Linked DNA regions of Homo sapiens: region 1 is linked to region 2. The links come from fine-mapping of genetic effects on gene expression. Tissue or cell type: whole blood. Region 2 holds a variant in brackets; the other region holds the start of a gene. All regions are shown on one strand. Distances are from middle to middle.

Region 1 (8,099 bases), 76 kb before region 2:
AACTTCACAGTTGAGAGGAGGAGGAGGAATATGCCCTTTTACTTGGCCCTTTTTTTTTTTTTTTTTTGAGACAGGGTCTAGCTCTGTCGTCCAGGCTGGAGAGGAGTGCAGTGGCATGATTATAGCTCACTGCAGCCTTGAACTCCTTGGTTCAAGCAATCCTCCCACCTCAGCCTCCTGAGTAACTGTGGACTACAGGCATGGCCAGCAAGACAGGGGGGTCTGAAGTGTCTGAGCACGGCTGGAGCCCAAATACGTTCAATGTGTATTTAGTACATGCTGATGCATGCATCTATCCATTGCAGCTCTGTTTGTAAAAGCTAAATATGGGCTGCAGTGGCTGGGCGCAGTGGCTCACGCCTGTAATCCCAGCACTTTGGGAGACCGAGGCAGGCTGATCACAAGGTCAGGAGATCGAGACCATCCTGGCTAACACAGTGAAACCCCGTCTCTACTAAAAAAATATGAAAAAATTAGCCGGGTGTAGTGGTGGGTGCCTGTAGTCCCAGCTACTCAGGAGGCTGAGGCAGGAGAATGGCTTGAACTTGGGAGGCGGAGCTTGCAGTGAGCCGAGATCGCGCCACTGCACTCCAGCCTGGGCGACAGAGCAAGAATCCAACTCAAAAAAAAAAAAAGAAAGAAAAAAAAAATATGGGCTGCAGCTTAAACAGCCATCAGTAAGGGACTGGCCTTAGAATGCATATGTCTGCTCAATGCAAATTTACCAGTGGTTTAAAAGGGGTGGGGGATATATACCTCCCCCGACCCCTTTCTGCCACCCCAGTCATAGACTACCTCTGGAAGAAAACATAAGAAATTATCAACAGCAGGTGCATCTGAGGAGGAACGGGGTACAGGCTGGGGAAGACCTGACTGATTTCTACTATGTGACCTTTTGTACTGTTTGATTTTTTCTTTTTAACTATATAATAGGCCGGGTGTGGTGGCTCACGCCTGTAATCCCAGCATCTTGGGAGGCTGAGGCGAGCAGATCACTTGGGGTCAGGAGTGCGAGACCAGCCTAGCCAACATGGTGAAACCCCGTTTCTATTAAAAATACAAAAATTAGCTGGGTGTGGTGGCACATGCCTGTAATCCCAGCTACTCAGGAGGCTGAGGTAGGAGAACTGCATGAACCCAGGAGGCAGAGGTTGCCGTGAGCCGAGATCACACCACTGCACTCCAGCCTGGGCAACAGAGCAAGACTCCGTCTCAAAAAAAACCCAAAAACTATATACTCAATGATCTTGCCAAAGTTTATACACATGTACATATATAACACACACGAAATATGTATATATAAAATATGTATATAAACATATGAATATTATAGGTACATGTACATATGTGTACAACACACACACATATACATACATATATACATACATGCCCATATATGTTTTAAATGACTCCTATTGAAGTTGGACAGAAAACCCAAATGGCTTCAGTTTCCACAGGAGAAGCTGAAGGTGACATGACCCTCTGAAACATTCTGGTACCGTCTTTGCAGGGAGCGGTGGGAGGGGGTAAGAAACGCTCCAGGAGCCTTACAGGAAATGGCACGTTATTGCTTTTCAACAACAAAGCCACTGTCCTCCTTCTATGCTGCATGCTTGCAAATCAGACTCAAGGGAACTAAAAAATTCCAGAAGAATCATTCCTAGCACCACCCAGGCTCGTTTTGCAGGTTAGCTTTAAACAGCTGAAACATTAGTTTGCCTCACTCTAAAGAGTGTTTCCTTACTCTTTATCGGCTTCAAGGGCCCAGGGAGTGTCGGAGAGGGGTCCCGGGTCTGCAAGAGCTGGGAGCCCCGGCCCCGGCAACCCCCTCTCCGGCATCCTGCAGGAGGCACCCAAGATGATGAGCCCCCCTCCTCCGGCAGCGTCTCCACCGCCAGCCTGCCCCAGGACTCCGAGACACACGCTTGGCAGAGGGGCCGTCCCTTCCAGCTAAGCCTTTCCGGACCCAGTCAAAGTCACGACTCCTGCCAATCCCTCTGAGATAAACATAACAGATGGGCCCAAACGCGGTGGGTCCACAGCAGAGGGTCAGCGATGCCCAGGGTAGAATAGGCTCTGCCTCTAGCATTCAAGTGGTTTAGGTCTGTGGCTGGTAAAATGGAGATGATTCCGGTTTGGTCTGACAGATGGGATTATTCTAAGGTCCGGAAATCACTTTATAGACTGTCAAGCACTGTTAGAAATGAACACTGGGGTAAGCTTTTGTTTGGGGAGGGGAGGGTGCAGCGATCCTGAGATACCAAGGCTTGGGGGACTATTGGAGGACCTGGGGGATTCGGGGGGATTATTACAGAGGGTGTGCGAACACAGGTGCACGTGGAAGAAAGCCCAAGGTGGGAGAGAGAAAAGGGGGAGACAGAGGTGTGGGGCTGCCAGGGCAGAGGGCAGGTGCCAGGGGGAAGGTCCCTGAGAAGAGAGACACAGGTTGCTGGGGGAGTGGGCACGAGAGTAGCGAGCAGATACCTGGATATGAGGAAAGGCAGTGGGGGACGGGACTAGGTCCAGGTGTGAGTTGCGAGGCCATGAGTTAGGAGTCACAGGCTCAGGTGTGGGTGTGGGGGTGTCATCGACAAGGACAGACTCAGGTGATGTGGGGGGTGTTCGTGAGTGGGGGCGGGTGTTCGTGAGTGGGGGCGCGGTGTCAGGTGTGTGAGGGGGATGTCAGACCCAGCTGTGCGGGGCGCCGGGGACAAGGCCCCAGGGGTGTGGGAGATGTCAGCAAGGACAGTCTAAAGTGTATGGGGGATGTCAACGAAAAGGGACGTGGTGTCAGGCGTGCGTGGACTGCGGGTGACGGGCTCAAACCTGGATGCAGTAGCCCCCAGGGGGCAGTAGACGTGGAGTGTGGGGTTGGGGGGGGTCTTTAACCTCTTCCTGCCCTCGCGACGCTACTGTCATGCCCCGCCTCATCCGCCCCTCGCCCCGGGATCCATGACAGGACCCGTGCCTCACCTCAGTTCAGCCCGACAGGCGCGGGCCGCTGACGCTTGGGCCCCCCCGGCGCCCCCCGCGCCCCCTCACCGGCCCGGACGCGTCGCCGCCGCCGCTACCTCCAGCCGCCACGGCCCCGCCTCGCGCACCCCCAGAGCGCGCCACGGGAGGGGTCCACGCCACGCCCCGATTGGCTGCTCCCTGGCCAGTCAGCGCTGGAAGCGACAGTGATTGGCGAGTATGAAGCAGATGGGCAGCCCCTAAAGCCAATCGCTGATTGGCAGAGGTGGGGCTATTGGGAGAGGCCTGGGGTGCCTGAGTGGTCCCTCAGGGTGCTAGGCGCTGGGAGGCGAGGGCCTGGAGGCAGGCGAGGATTGGAATCTTGGCAGAAAACAGGCAGAACTGTCGGCCAATCGCTGGGGGCCAGGGGCGGGGCTACGAAGAAACTGGCGCTACCGGTGGGGCAGAGGCGAGAGGAACGGAGGGCGTAGCTTGGGGGGAGACCGGGATTGGCCGCAAAGCCGAAGACTGGCAGGCCCCGCGGCCAGTCGCAGCGGCCGTGGGCGGTACGCCCCCAGGGGAGGGCTGGAGCGTTCAAGGTGCAGTCCGACCCGGAGCGCGGCAACCCGACGTGGCCTCGGACGCCTGGCGCAGGGTCCCCTGAGGCTCTCGTGTAGAGCCCGCCCTCTGGCCACCTAGCACAGAAGCGGATGTGAACTTGGACCATCAAGGCTGAAGGACTCCTGGATAATTCTCTATCCCCTTACTCCCCACTAATCCCCTGCAGACGACACGGAGAGGGCAGATTCGCTGGAGGTCACTCTGAACTGCCCTCTCCATCTCGAGGTGGTGTGAAGACATGGAAATAAGGGGCGGAATCCTACTGAAACGCGCTGCGTGGTTTTCTGAGTGTCTGACCTCTCTGCGTCCCAGCTTTCCCCGCCACGGTATCCAGTGACATCCCTGTTGGGCCTTCTCCCTGCCAAGTCTTTTTTTGAATTAACTGAATCTTAACCACAATCCCATGAGGTCAGAGAGACCACTGGCTCCTTTTACAGAAACCAGAGCACAGAGAGGTCAAGCTCCTTGCCCAAGGTTACACAGCATTCTCTGGTTGCTAAACCAGAGAATGAATCTAGAGCAGCCTGCTTTTTGGAAAGAGTGTGTCAGAGAAGAGCCACTGGGGGCCTCAGAGACCTGGGTTTGAATCCTTGTCCAATCACTGGCCCACCACACAACCTTGGGCAAAAGCCCTTGTGAGCCTCAGCTGTTTCATTTGGAAAAGAGGGGGGAAAATGATTCCTATGCCTTGATCTTTCCTCTCTGGGGTTGCTTCCCTGGGAAAATTTACAACTCAGCTCTCATTTTAATTATCTGGTGAAAGCATTTGACCCTGAGCAGGTCATGTGCGGCCTGTGAGCCTCAGCTCCTCTGTGAAGTGCAGAAAAATGCCGGCAGTTTAGGGAGACACCTGCCATCCCAGGCATGGCTGTGTCATCGGCACCTCCCCCGAAGCCACTCTGTTCTATGACTCACCCTTCATCTTCAGGATGGAGAGGGCTACAAATGTTTCCAGATACCAGCTCTTATTTCCTCTAGGTGCTGGCCAGGGTTGGTGGAGATCAAGTTCAGAACCAGGGAATCCTGGGAGGGAGCAAGGCTGAAACCAACCTTAGAAAGGGCTCACATTTCAGGGCTGCACAAGCCCCTGCTAAGTGTGTGATCCACAAGTTTCAAATGGGGAGGATGTGACGGGAAATCACTAGCCCAAGGCCATCATCAAACTCCTGATATTCTCACGATATGCCTACCTGGACCTCCTCTCCCATACCTCCCACCTGTGGTTTGCTTCCTGGCAACTTCCAGGATCTGGCCTCCATTCTGCCCTCCAGAGAAGAGGGGGAAGCTGAGGTCAGTTGAACATCAATTGGGTGCCAGGTCCCCACTGGGCTTTCTCCAATACCATCTCCCCACCTCACTTCCAGGTGGACGTGACAGTGCCCACTTAGCAGATAAGAAAACTGAGCCTATGGTGGAGAATATTCCTTGGTGGAAGGACCCAGGGCTGAGTTTGAATCCCTGCTCTTTTTAACGTAAGTAATGGCCAGTAACAGCCACAGGACCTTCAGCAAATAACACAAGCTCCCCACTTCAGTTTCCCGGCTGTCTCCTAGGGCTGATGTGAGCATTGATGAAATGGAAGCAAAACACTTACAATGGCTTCGTCCACAGTAAGCACTCATGGAAGGCTGGTGATGATATATTGTTCTTCTCTGGGCCTGTTTCCCTCTCTGTAAATAGCGCTTCATGGACACAGACCAACTATGGGCGTGGCTTGCCACACCAAGAGGGAGATATCTACGCCGAGGAGCGCCCACTCCCAGTGCCCACCTGCCAGGCCCTGGGAGGGGGAGGTAACAAAGCTCCTGGAAGGTCCCACAGTGCCTCCAGGGACAGAGCCAACTAAGGCAAAGGTCAGGCTCTGGCCCAGCCTGGGGCTGCCTCTCTAGCTTCTGCTCGTTCTTTAGCAGGCTGGCGCCAGCCAACCTCCCTACCGCCTTCCAGCAATGGCAGGCAAAGCACCTTGGCAATAGCAATGGACACCCCCACCATGGGCACTCATGTAAGCCCAGCTAGGGTGCCCAGGATCTCGGCTCTTCTGCTTTGGCTGGCCAGCCCTGGACAGGACACTGCCTCTTCGCCCTCCAGTCTCCTCTACCTCTTGGGGATCCCAGGAATCATCTGTGAGCCAGGCCCTGGCACAGCGTCCAGGCCTAATCACCTGAGGCCCAAAGGCCTTTTGCCCAAGGTCAGGTTAACAGCTTTGGAAAAAGATGAGGGGCCTGGAGGCAGGCCAAGCTGTGGTCTCATCCCACCGCAGCCCCTCAAATGCCCATGAGTCTATTTCCTATCTGGAAAATGAGGTTTAGTCCAGCCTCTGGGAGATGTATGTTCACAACAGAAAAAATCTGTGTTCCTTTCCCAGGAGCCCAAGCCCATCCCTGGCTGGAGGGAGACATCCTGAACACAGCAGTGACAACAACCAAGCCTGGCTGGGGTCAGAGTGGCCTCATTCACCTCCCAAGGCTCAGATAAGTCAGGCCACTTCACCAAGAGCCTACAGTAGCAGAGGCGTGGCCTGAACACACTCGCACCATCCTTGCAGCAGGCTCCACCTCAGCCCAGGTCTCGATGTCATCAAGGAGGACAGCAAAAGCTACTTAAGAGAAGGCCAGGGCCGGGTGCGGTGGCTCACGCCTGTAATCCTAGCACTTTGGGAGGCCGAGGCGGGCGGATCACGAGGTCAGGAGATCAAGACCATCCTGGCTAACAAGGTGAAACCCCATCTCTACTAAAAATACAAAAAAATTAGCCGGGGGTGGTGGCAGGCGCCTGTAATCCCAGCTACTCAGGAGGCTGAGGCAGGAGAATGGTGTGAACCTGGGAGGCAGAGCTTGCAGTGAGCCGAGATGGCGCCACTGCACTCCAGCCTGGGTGACAGAAAAGGGAAGGCGACGGGGATGGGGGCTGGGGGGAGTTATGTTCTGGACATCCCCTGAAGCGCGCCTTTCTAGGGGCTGTGGCCCTCCAGTGTGCCAGATCTAGCCTGAGTTCAGATGAGAAGGCCGAGGCTCACAGACGGGAGGTGATATGCCTGAAGTGGCCGAGGGGGGATGGAAAGCCAGGCCATAACCCCAGGGAAATGTGAGATCTTTGGTGAGGGGCCCCCACCCAACCTGAGGCTGTCCAAACATGCTAGCTGCATCTACTGAAGACACCCACTTCCTTGGGCTAAGGTGGGAGGGACAGATAAGGCAGAACCACCCCTTCCTGAAGAAGCCTGCAGCTTGGCCCAGGCCCAGGGGAGGACGCTGGGGCCACCTGGCAGGGACCTCGAGTGCTTGTCAGTTTATTCAGGTGAACACTCAAAAACACTGACGGGAAGCTGAAGGCACAGCAAGTGGGGACAGGGGCCTCCCTGCAGGGAGCCAGCCGATGGTGGGGGCAAGACAAACAGGAGAGTTCACAAATGAGGTGACCTCAGATGGGGCCCAGTGTCAGAGCCAGAGCACATGAGGTGATGAGATGGGGGTCTCTCCTGGAGAAGGCAACGTGAGCTGAAACCTCATGTGCTAGGAGGAGCCGGCCACGGGGAAGGCCAAGGGAAGGGCACTTCTAGGCAGAGGGCATGGCTTGTCACATGGGGGCTTGTGCAAAGGCCCTGGGGTGGGGGAATAGGGAGTGAGTACAGTGGAAAGACTGGGAAATGGGCAAGGCCTGGGCCATACTGGGTCTGCAGGGCATGAAGTGCATTTTTTTGTTTGTTTGTTTGTTTTTGAGACAAGCTCTTGATCCGTCACCCAGGCTGGAGTGCAGTGGTGCCATCCTAACTCACTGCAGCCTTGACTCCTGGGCTCAAGTGATCTTCCCGCCTTAGCCCAAGTTGCTGGGACCACAGACAGGTTTGGTTTTATGTAGAAGGCAAAGGGGAGCCATGGGCAGACTGAGAGCAAGGCTGGAGCAGGAATGACAGGGCCAGCACTGCAGGCCGTCCTCGAAATAGCTCAGGAGCACCTACCCCGCCACATGACAGATGAAGAAATGCTTGAGAACTGCCCAAGGTCACACTGGCCCAGAAGTTAAGTCAGGGCAGTCTGGGGCAGATTCGAGATCTTTCTCCCACATCCTGGGAGTCTCCAGGGAGGAGGGATAGGGCGGGGTGACTGGGTCAGAGGTTTGGGCCAGCCCTGCTGAGCTGAGAGCACCCTTTCCTGCTGGGGGCAGGGGAGACGGGGACACCACGGAGAGGTGCAGCCAGGGTGACGCTCCTCAGCTGTTTGCATCGGCTGGATTCCACGGAAGCTGGGGGCCTGCTGGGAAAGGAGTGTCCCTGAGGTCAAGGACTGAGCCCAGGCCATCCTGGGGCTCGGGGAGGCACATGACAAGCAGGGGCGAGGGTCCAAGAGGGGAGAGGCCTCCAAGGTGTGGGCAGGAAGGCTAGGGCACACACCAGTGGTCATGAGGCTGCCCGGACCCCCGTGAGGCCACAAGAGATGCACAAGCCACCTAGTGACCACGGTGTGACCTCTGAGTGTGACTTCAGAGCAGAAGAGCTGGGGTCTGCAGGGCCACAGCTGTCTGGGCAC
Region 2 (8,099 bases):
CTGTGGCGTGTGGCCACTGACCGCCCCCCACCTCCTGCCGCTCCTCCAAGTTTGAGCTGAGATGGTTCTGTGAGTCCTTGGCAGGGGTCAAAGGGCACATCTCCTTGAACCTAGAAAGCCCCCTACACTCTCAGAGGACACCTCTCCTGTGGATTCAGCGCTGGGGCAGTGAAGGTGTCGGGAGCCAGCAGAGCATGGTGCGTGCTGCCAGCTGCCGGCCAGCCGGGATAGAGGAGATGCCACTGGCCCTCCGTGCCCCCAGCCCCTCCCTCTTAACCGAGGCTGTCCTTGCTCTCTGCAGAGGCCGCTCTGCAGGATCCTCGTGTCGCGCGTGATGTGTGGTGGCACAGCCGTGTCAAAGTCACAGTGTCTTTTCTGTCGTTCTAGTTCCAGGGTCACCCCCGAGAGGACAACAGGCATCTGGAAGTGCTCTCTCGCCACTCTGGGTGCTTTACTGTCTCTGGCTTGTTTCCATCACTGGAAATCACTTAGAGAATTGTAGTGTTTTTGGTCCTTGATAAAGCCTAGAAGACATTTGTGATGTTACAAAATGGAAGTTTTCTTTTGTTTCTGTTTTTTAAGATCTAAGAAGTTGTGAATGTTGTTAATCATTTAGCCGTTGCAATAAATGTAGAGGAAATGCAGTGTGCTGGGGTCTCCATGGCTGTGTTTTTAAAATCAGATCAGACACCAGCGCACGCAGATGGGAGTGCAGTGTAGAACCAGATGATGGCTGCCTCCCAGGACGTGCCCTCCGCCGGCGTGGTGCTCCTCCCTCGGGCCCCTCCTCACTGGCTTGCCCCACCTGAGGGACCTTGTGTCACTGTCACCAGGAAAGCTTGGAAGATGCCAGAGAGCAGGAAGGGACCAAGCACCCACCAGAGGGAGGGCAATTCCCTTCTGGGGAGGCTGGGGAGGGTAATCGGTACCGCCAAGTACAGAAGCTGCCTTTGAGGGGTGTCAGGGCAGTGGGAGCTGTGCCCCTGCTGCCTACGACTCACCTGTCCCCACAGGGCTTTGCCCCATCATCCCAGGGCTGGGGTTCCAGCTGCCAGAGTAAAACCAGAGCCTGCCTGGGCCACCCTCTGACTGCAGAGCTGCCTCTCTGTCATCTTCACACTCCCTGCTGTCCCTGGGTGCTGCCAGCCTGCCCATGGTTCCTCTGTCAACAGCCCCTTGGCCCTCCAGGTGAGGAGGGGCGTGCAGAGGGCACAGCAGAGACCAAGGCAGCACCCAGGGGGCCTGCAGGGGCCTCTGCCTGACCAGGGTGAGGAGGGGAGGAGCCAGACTGCAGGGAGGGGGAAGGCACTGTGCCCAGGGCAGGTGATGCTCATGTAGAAAGGTCCCTGTGGGCAGCTTAGCGGGAGCCTTGAGACAGAGCCCTTAGGAAGCTGAGGCAGGACCCCCAGCCTCACTTCTACCGTGTCCCGGGGGAAGCTATTGCCAGCCAAGACCCTCACCCTGCCTTCATCTTAGCGATGTCTAACCGCTAGCTTCAGTGGCACTCCCTGAGAAAGGCCGGAGCCTGCAGGGAAAATGTGGGGCTCACCTGCAGGGGGTGAGGAACCACCAGGAATTTCTCTTCAGTAGTGGAACCCTTCTTCCCCTAGTTCCTCTTAATATCACCCTAAGGCCGGTCAGGGTGTCTTAGGAGGACAGGAGGAGTGGTGTCCAGCCCAGGATGCCTGTCCTGGCGTTGACCCAGGCAGGTCACTTGATCTCAGGCCTCAGTTTCCCCTCTACAGACTGGGAAGGATCTCATTTGGAAGGTAAAATCTCCCCTGCTGCCTTGTACTAGGTTGGTGCAAAAGTAATGGCAAAACCTTCAATTACTTTTCCACCAACCTAATAATTTAGGACTAAGTGGAACCACAAGATCCCTGTCATGGCCTTTCTCCTCCCTGGAGCTTCCTTGGGGCAAGACAGGCAGAAGGCGCTGCCAAGAAGCCCCAGTAGCAAAAGCAAGGTGTGGCTTCAGTCCAGGCCTTTGCTGTGCATGCATGCCCACGTACAGATGTGCGCGCATGCATGTTCAAGCAGCACGCGAGGACGTTTTCCTTGTAAAAGATGAAAAACCAAACCCAGATGTATGCGGAATGGAGCACAGAGGCTTTCTCCTCCCATAAGTCAAAACAAATGACAGGACACTCCAAGGGTGCCACTCGGAGACTGCCTTCCTCTCCCCACAGGCTGTCTCAGCAGTCTCCATGGCCCGTGGGAAAAGAGCAGGTATTGGGTTGGCTTCAGAGGATATTCCACATGTAAACAATCGTAGGCACAATCGTGTTTTAGATGGAACCTTTAAAATGCAAATTATACTTCAAGTTCTATTCTGCTCCCTGCTTTTTTTCACTTAAAAAATTTCTGAGGCTGGGCGCGGTGGCTCACGCCTGTAATCCCAGCACTTTGGGAGGTGGAGGTGGGCAGATCACCTGAGGTTGGGAGTTCAAGACCAGCCTGACCAACATGGAGAAACCTCATCTATACTAAAAATACAAAAGTTAGCCAGGCATGGTGGCGCATGCCTGTCATCCCAGCTACTCGGGAGGCTGAGGCAGGAGAATCGCTTGAACCCTGGAGGCAGAGGTTGCGTTTAGCCGAGATCGCGCCACTGCACTCCAGCCTGGGCAACAAGAGCGACCCTTGGTCTCAAAAAAAAAAAAAAAAAATTCTGAAGCCATGTGTGGCAGCCTGTGCTTGTAATCCCAGCTACTGGAGAGGCTGAGGTGGGAGGATCACTTGAGCCCAGGATTGGAGGCTGTGGTGAATTGAGATTGCATCACAGTACTCCAGCCTGGGCAACCCTATATCTAAAAATACAAACCTGAAATAAACTTACATATACACATGTATGTATGATGGCTTGTCATTTAGCTAACAGGTTCTCCACGCCTAGCCATTTGGGTTTGGGCCCTACATCCTAGAATGGGCTTCTTTGTGGACAAAGTCCAGGAAATAGCATATGAGAACAAAGGGTCCTCCTGAGGGTCTCCTCACCTTGCTGCCTCCCTCCACACAGTTCATGTGCCATCTAACTTTGGGGTGACCCTGCTGATGTCCCAATTCCCTAGTTTCCCTGCCTCTCCGGGACAGTGGGGGCTGTGGTTCCTGCAGGTGTCTCTGGCAGGCACTGGCCCTTAGGCTGGGCTCCAATGCCAGCTTCACCCCCCAAACCCTGACCTCTTGGGATATGGACCTGACTGCTGACTCTCTCTACCTCCTCCAGGTCCCTCAACTCTGTCCCTGTCACCCCCACCCTGTCA[C/T]CAGCCCCACCTCAACAGTGCAGGAGCCTGTGGTGGTTTGGGGTCACCGTGTTCCCTGAGGGGCCCAGCCAGGCCTCTATCTCCCCTGTGTCCACATACTACCCCAATGCCCACCCATGGTGGAGGGTGGTGTTTTGAGGGCCAGAGATGTGCCAGCAACAGGGACGCTATTACTGACCCTCTGCTCACAGTCAGTCCTCCCCGAGGTGGTCAAGCGGTGGGACCCTCCACGCCTGCATTTTCTCCAGTGAAATGTAGCCAACAGCTTGCAGGGTTAAATACATACGGTTACCCAGGACCTCTCTTAGAGGGTTCAGAGGGACTGGTCTTGTTACCGACTGATCCTTTCACATCCCACCCGCTTGGGCCTCAGTTTTCCCTCGTGAGGATCCCCAAGCCCTTCTCAGCTCCCCTTGCCCACCCCTCCCTGGCCAGCCTGAGGGTTGGGTGGCCCCCAAACTCTACCACATTCCATAGAGGAGCTATCCAGGGAAAGAGTGGTAAGTTGTCACAAGTCCCCCCATCCCCATATGTTTGGGGGATTAATCCCCCCCAAGGGTTTGGGGGATTAATCCCCATCATATGTTCGGGGGATTAAGGGCTGGGCAGAGGTAGGAGCCGGGGATGATTAATGAATGCTGGGGCTGCAGCCTAGGCAACATAGGGAGGCTCCACCTCTACAAAAAGAAACGTTTTTGTTAGCAGGGCATGATAGTCCCACCTGTAGTCCCAGCTCCTCGGGAGGCTGAGGTTGAAGGATTGCTTGAGCCAGGGAGCTGGAGGCTGCAGTGAGCTATGAATGCACCACTGCAGCCCAGCCTGGACGACAGAGCAAGACCCTGCCGCCAACCCCCAACACACACAAAAAAGAGAATTAAAGGAGCTCACAAAATTTCAGCCTCAAGGCCCACAGCACAGACCATATACTGAGATAAATCTGATCGTCATTGGCCTCTCTGGACTCCAGTGCTCTCATCCGGGGAGGATCAGCCCATTTCCCAATGGAAAAACTGAGGCCTGGGGCAGTCTGACTCCAGAGCTTGAATTCTAAACATCAGTATCCGGATTTCCAGTTGGTTTCATCTGATTTAGAAGCTCCCTATATACACACACTTGCGTACACATGGACACACCCTGTGCAACGCCATGTGCGAATGCGTGCACACATGCACATACATACACAGAGACATGCACACGTATGCACACAGACATACACACATGCATAGGTCTACACGGTGCTTCTATTTCCCACGAAGTCCATACTCATGGCCCTGAGAACTTTAACACTCAGGAATTGCGGCTCTGTAATGACTGGCACTATCCGCTTCCTTCACAGCCCAGGAGGGGGACCTCACGAGCTGAGCTTTTCTTGGCTGAATTTTTCTCCAGCGAATCCTCAGGTTGGACTCATGGGAGCACCAACTCCCAGTTCTTGCAGCTTGTGGCCAGGTGTGAAAAGGGGAGCGTTAGCCTCGAGATTTCAGCTTCCACGCCTTCATGACTTGCTTTTGCCAGGAGGAAAGCAAACCTTAAGAATTTGAATCCTCAGTCCTAACATGTCCTCTCTGTGCTGTGTAACCTGGGGCGGGTGATCCACATCTCTGAGTGTCAGCTTCCTCATTTGCAAATGGGGAGAACAGTAGCATCTACAGAAGGGTTCTTAGGAGCAGCACCCGCATGCTGTGAACTCAGACATCGCTGATCTGTTTCCATTGTTCTGTGTCAGTGGACCCAGTCCTTGAGGCATCCCATTGGCTGACTCCTCCTCCTTAAAACAAAGGCCAGGCGTGGTGGCTCACGCCTGTAATCCCAGCACTTTGGGAGGCCGAGGCAGGCAGATCACCTGAGGTCAGGAGTTCGAGACCAGCCTGGCCAACATGGTGAAACCTCGTCTCTACTAAAAATGCAAAAATTAGCTGGGTGTGGTGGTGCATGCCTGTAATCCCAGCTATTCCGGAGGCCGAAGCAGGAGAATCGCGTGAATCCAGGAGGCGGGGGTTGCAGTGAGCCGAGATCGCACCACTGTACTCCAGCCTGGGCTACAAAAGCAAAACTCTATCTATAAATAAATAAATGAAGTTTCCTGAGTCCTTACCTAGACCCCATGACATGATGAAAGGGCCTTGACTCCAGTGTCCTGGTCACAACGAGTGACTTTGGAAAATTCACTTCACTCCCTGAGGCCCCAGCATGCTCATCTTAAAATAAAGATGTTCCAAGCTGGGCGTGGTGGCTCACACCTGCAATCCCAGCACTTTAGGAGGGAGAGGAAAGAGCACTGCTTGAGGCCAGGAATTCAAGGCCAGCCTGGGCAACGTAACAAGACCCCATCTCTATTAAAAAAAAAAGAAACCCTAGCCGGGCATGGTGGCACATGCCTGTAGTCCCACCTACTTGGGAGGCTGAGGAGGAAGGATCACTTGAGCCCGGGAGGTCAAGGCTGCAGTGAGCTGTGATTGTACCACTGCACTCCAGCCTGGGTGACAGAGTATGACCTTGTCTCAAAAAAAATAAATCCATTTGCAAAGTGTAGCATCATTTTTGTAAAAATCTTGTAAAATGTAGACAAGCCCCCCGTATATGGCAATGTTGGGCTGTGTTTCAGCACAAAGATGGGTCTACTCCAAACCGGCCACGTGGTAGGGAAGCGTGTGGGGTCCGGGCAGGGGTGCCACCCCCCACCAACACCCAGCCATGTGCCTCCTTACAACCAGTTTGAAAGGAAAATCCACTGAAGAATGTTTAGAGGAAGTAAAAACAGCAAAGCACTTGCTGGCAGCAATTGTCGGCCTTTGTTTCGGAGGCAGCTGTGGTCTTAGGAGAAAAAAGGATCAGATTTGAACCAAGACAGTTTCTTCCTGTGTCAAATGGGGAAATAAGCCTGGCTTCCTCCCAGGGCCATTGTTCAAAGGCTGCTGTGAAAAACCCTCTGACATCTCCTTGGCAGAGGCTCTGATCGGCTTTTTACATCTTGTCTGTTCACTCATTCATTCATTCATTCATTCACCACACATTTTTATTTGTTGGTTTTCGTTTTGAGACAGGGTCTTACTCTGTCGCCCAGGCTGGAGTGTAGTGGTGCCATCTCGGCTTACTGCAACCTCCACCTCCAAGATTCACGCAATCCTCCCACCTCAGCCTCCTGAGTAGCCGGGACTATGGGCACGCGCCACCATGCCCAGCTAATTTTTGTATTTTTTAGTAGAGAGGGGCTTTTGTCATGGTGCGGTGGCTCATGCTTGTAATCCCAGCACTTTGGGAGGCCAAGGCAGACGGATCGCTTGAGGTCAGGAGTTTGAGACCAGCCTGGGCAAGACGGCAAAATTCCGTTTGTACTAAAAATACAAAAATTAGCCAGGCATGGTGGTACACACACATAGTTCCAGCTACTCGGGAGGCTGAGGCGAGAAGATCACTTGAACCCGGAAAGTGGAGGTTGCAGCGAGCCGGGATGGCGTCACTGCACTCCAGCCTGAGTGACAGAGTAAGACTCTGTCTCAAAAACAAACAAAAAATTTATCATCATTATCATTATTATTTTTAAGACGGCATCTCACTCTGTAGCCCAGGCTGGAGTACAGTGGCATGATCATAGCTCTCTGCAGCCTTGACCTCCTGGGCTGAAATGATCCTCCAGCCTTAGCCTCCTGAGTAGCTGGGACTACAGGCATGTATCACCATGCCTGGCCTGATTTACACCTTTTAAAAGAGCAGTCTGGAAGGGCAGGGCAGGAATGAAAGCAATTCTGAACTGTTCCATCTATACCCCTCGGTTCCAGCCCCATTTAATGGCAGGCACCTGTGCAGGGTATCAGGGCTACCCTGGGCTGCTGGAGCACCCTTTGCCTGAATGCCCACTGGAACCAGAAGTGCCTGGAATTGACATTCCCCAGGGTAACCCTGACAGCTGACGAGGGTGGGGTGTGAATAACCTAGCCAAAAGACACAGAGACATAGACCCCGTGTGCTGGCCAGCTATTTGGTAAAACAACCATTCTCTGGCAGTTGTCTGAAATGTGGCCTTAGACAACGTTGTAGGCTCCGTCTCAGCCCCGAACCCCATGGAGGTCACTTGCAAGGAACCCAGAGCAAACCTGTCCTTTCTGGCTTGGACGTCCCACCTGCCTACTCTAGAGCCTTTGACAGTTTCCCTGTTTCAGTCCAGAGATGTTCACCCTCTCCTTTCTGGCTCTCCACGTTCTTGGCAGGTTGTTGCAAGAGGCAGAGATGTCTGGGAGCAACTAAGTCCCTCAGAACGCAGAAAACCTTCTTCTTCTTCTTCTTCTTTTTTTTTTTTTTTTTTTTTTTTTTTTTTTTTTGAGACAGAGTCTCACTCTGTTGCCCAGGCTGGTGGAGTACAGCAGCTCAATCTGGGCTCACTGCAACCCCCTGTAACCCCCACCTCCCAGTTTCAAGCAATTATTTTGCCTCAGCCTCCCAAGTAGCTAGGACTACAGGCAGGCACCACCATACCTGGCTAATTTTTGTATTTTTAGTAGAGATGGGGTTTCACCATGTTGCTCAGGCTGGTCTTGAACTCCTGACCTCAGATGATCCATCCGCCTCTGCCTCCCAAAGTGTTGGGATTACAGGCATGAACCACTGCACCTGGCCAGAAAACCTTCTTTTATCCAAGTCCAAGTAAGCAGGAGTCCAGGGTGGGCACCCGGGGGGCATCCCTAGATAGCACTGGATATCTTATAGCGCCAGGCATGGCAAAGAACGCTTGGCACCTGTGCTCCTTTCACCTTAGGCAACCACAGCTCCCTTTACAGACGAGGAAACTGAGGCCCAGAGACGTTGGTTAACAACTCTCTGGGGCAGGCAGGTGGGACG

What was found. PIP is the estimated chance that this variant, and not a neighbour inherited with it, causes the effect.
Region 1: it holds the start of SLC25A42, and the variant in region 2 is fine-mapped to the expression of SLC25A42 in whole blood (TOPMed, PIP above 0.99).

What each region holds. Positions count from the first base shown.
Region 1 is chr19:19,058,990-19,067,088 of GRCh38, reverse strand. SLC25A42 (solute carrier family 25 member 42) reads right to left here and starts at 3,095. Exons shown (of 8, transcript NM_178526.5): 1 at 2,974-3,095. It overlaps LOC124904655 (a long non-coding RNA gene), which reads left to right and starts at 3,564. Exons shown (of 3, transcript XR_007067160.1): 1 at 3,564-3,899; 2 at 4,938-5,045; 3 at 5,939-6,263. RefSeq lists silencers at 2,924-3,193, 3,454-3,623.
Region 2 is chr19:18,983,438-18,991,536 of GRCh38, reverse strand. SUGP2 (SURP and G-patch domain containing 2) reads left to right here. Exons shown (of 11, transcript NM_001017392.5): 11 at 1-644. Among named protein-coding and RNA genes, the nearest start is that of SUGP2, 46 kb to the left of the region's middle. RefSeq lists an enhancer at 1,150-1,650. The variant C/T (reference allele first, on the strand shown) is at 3,264.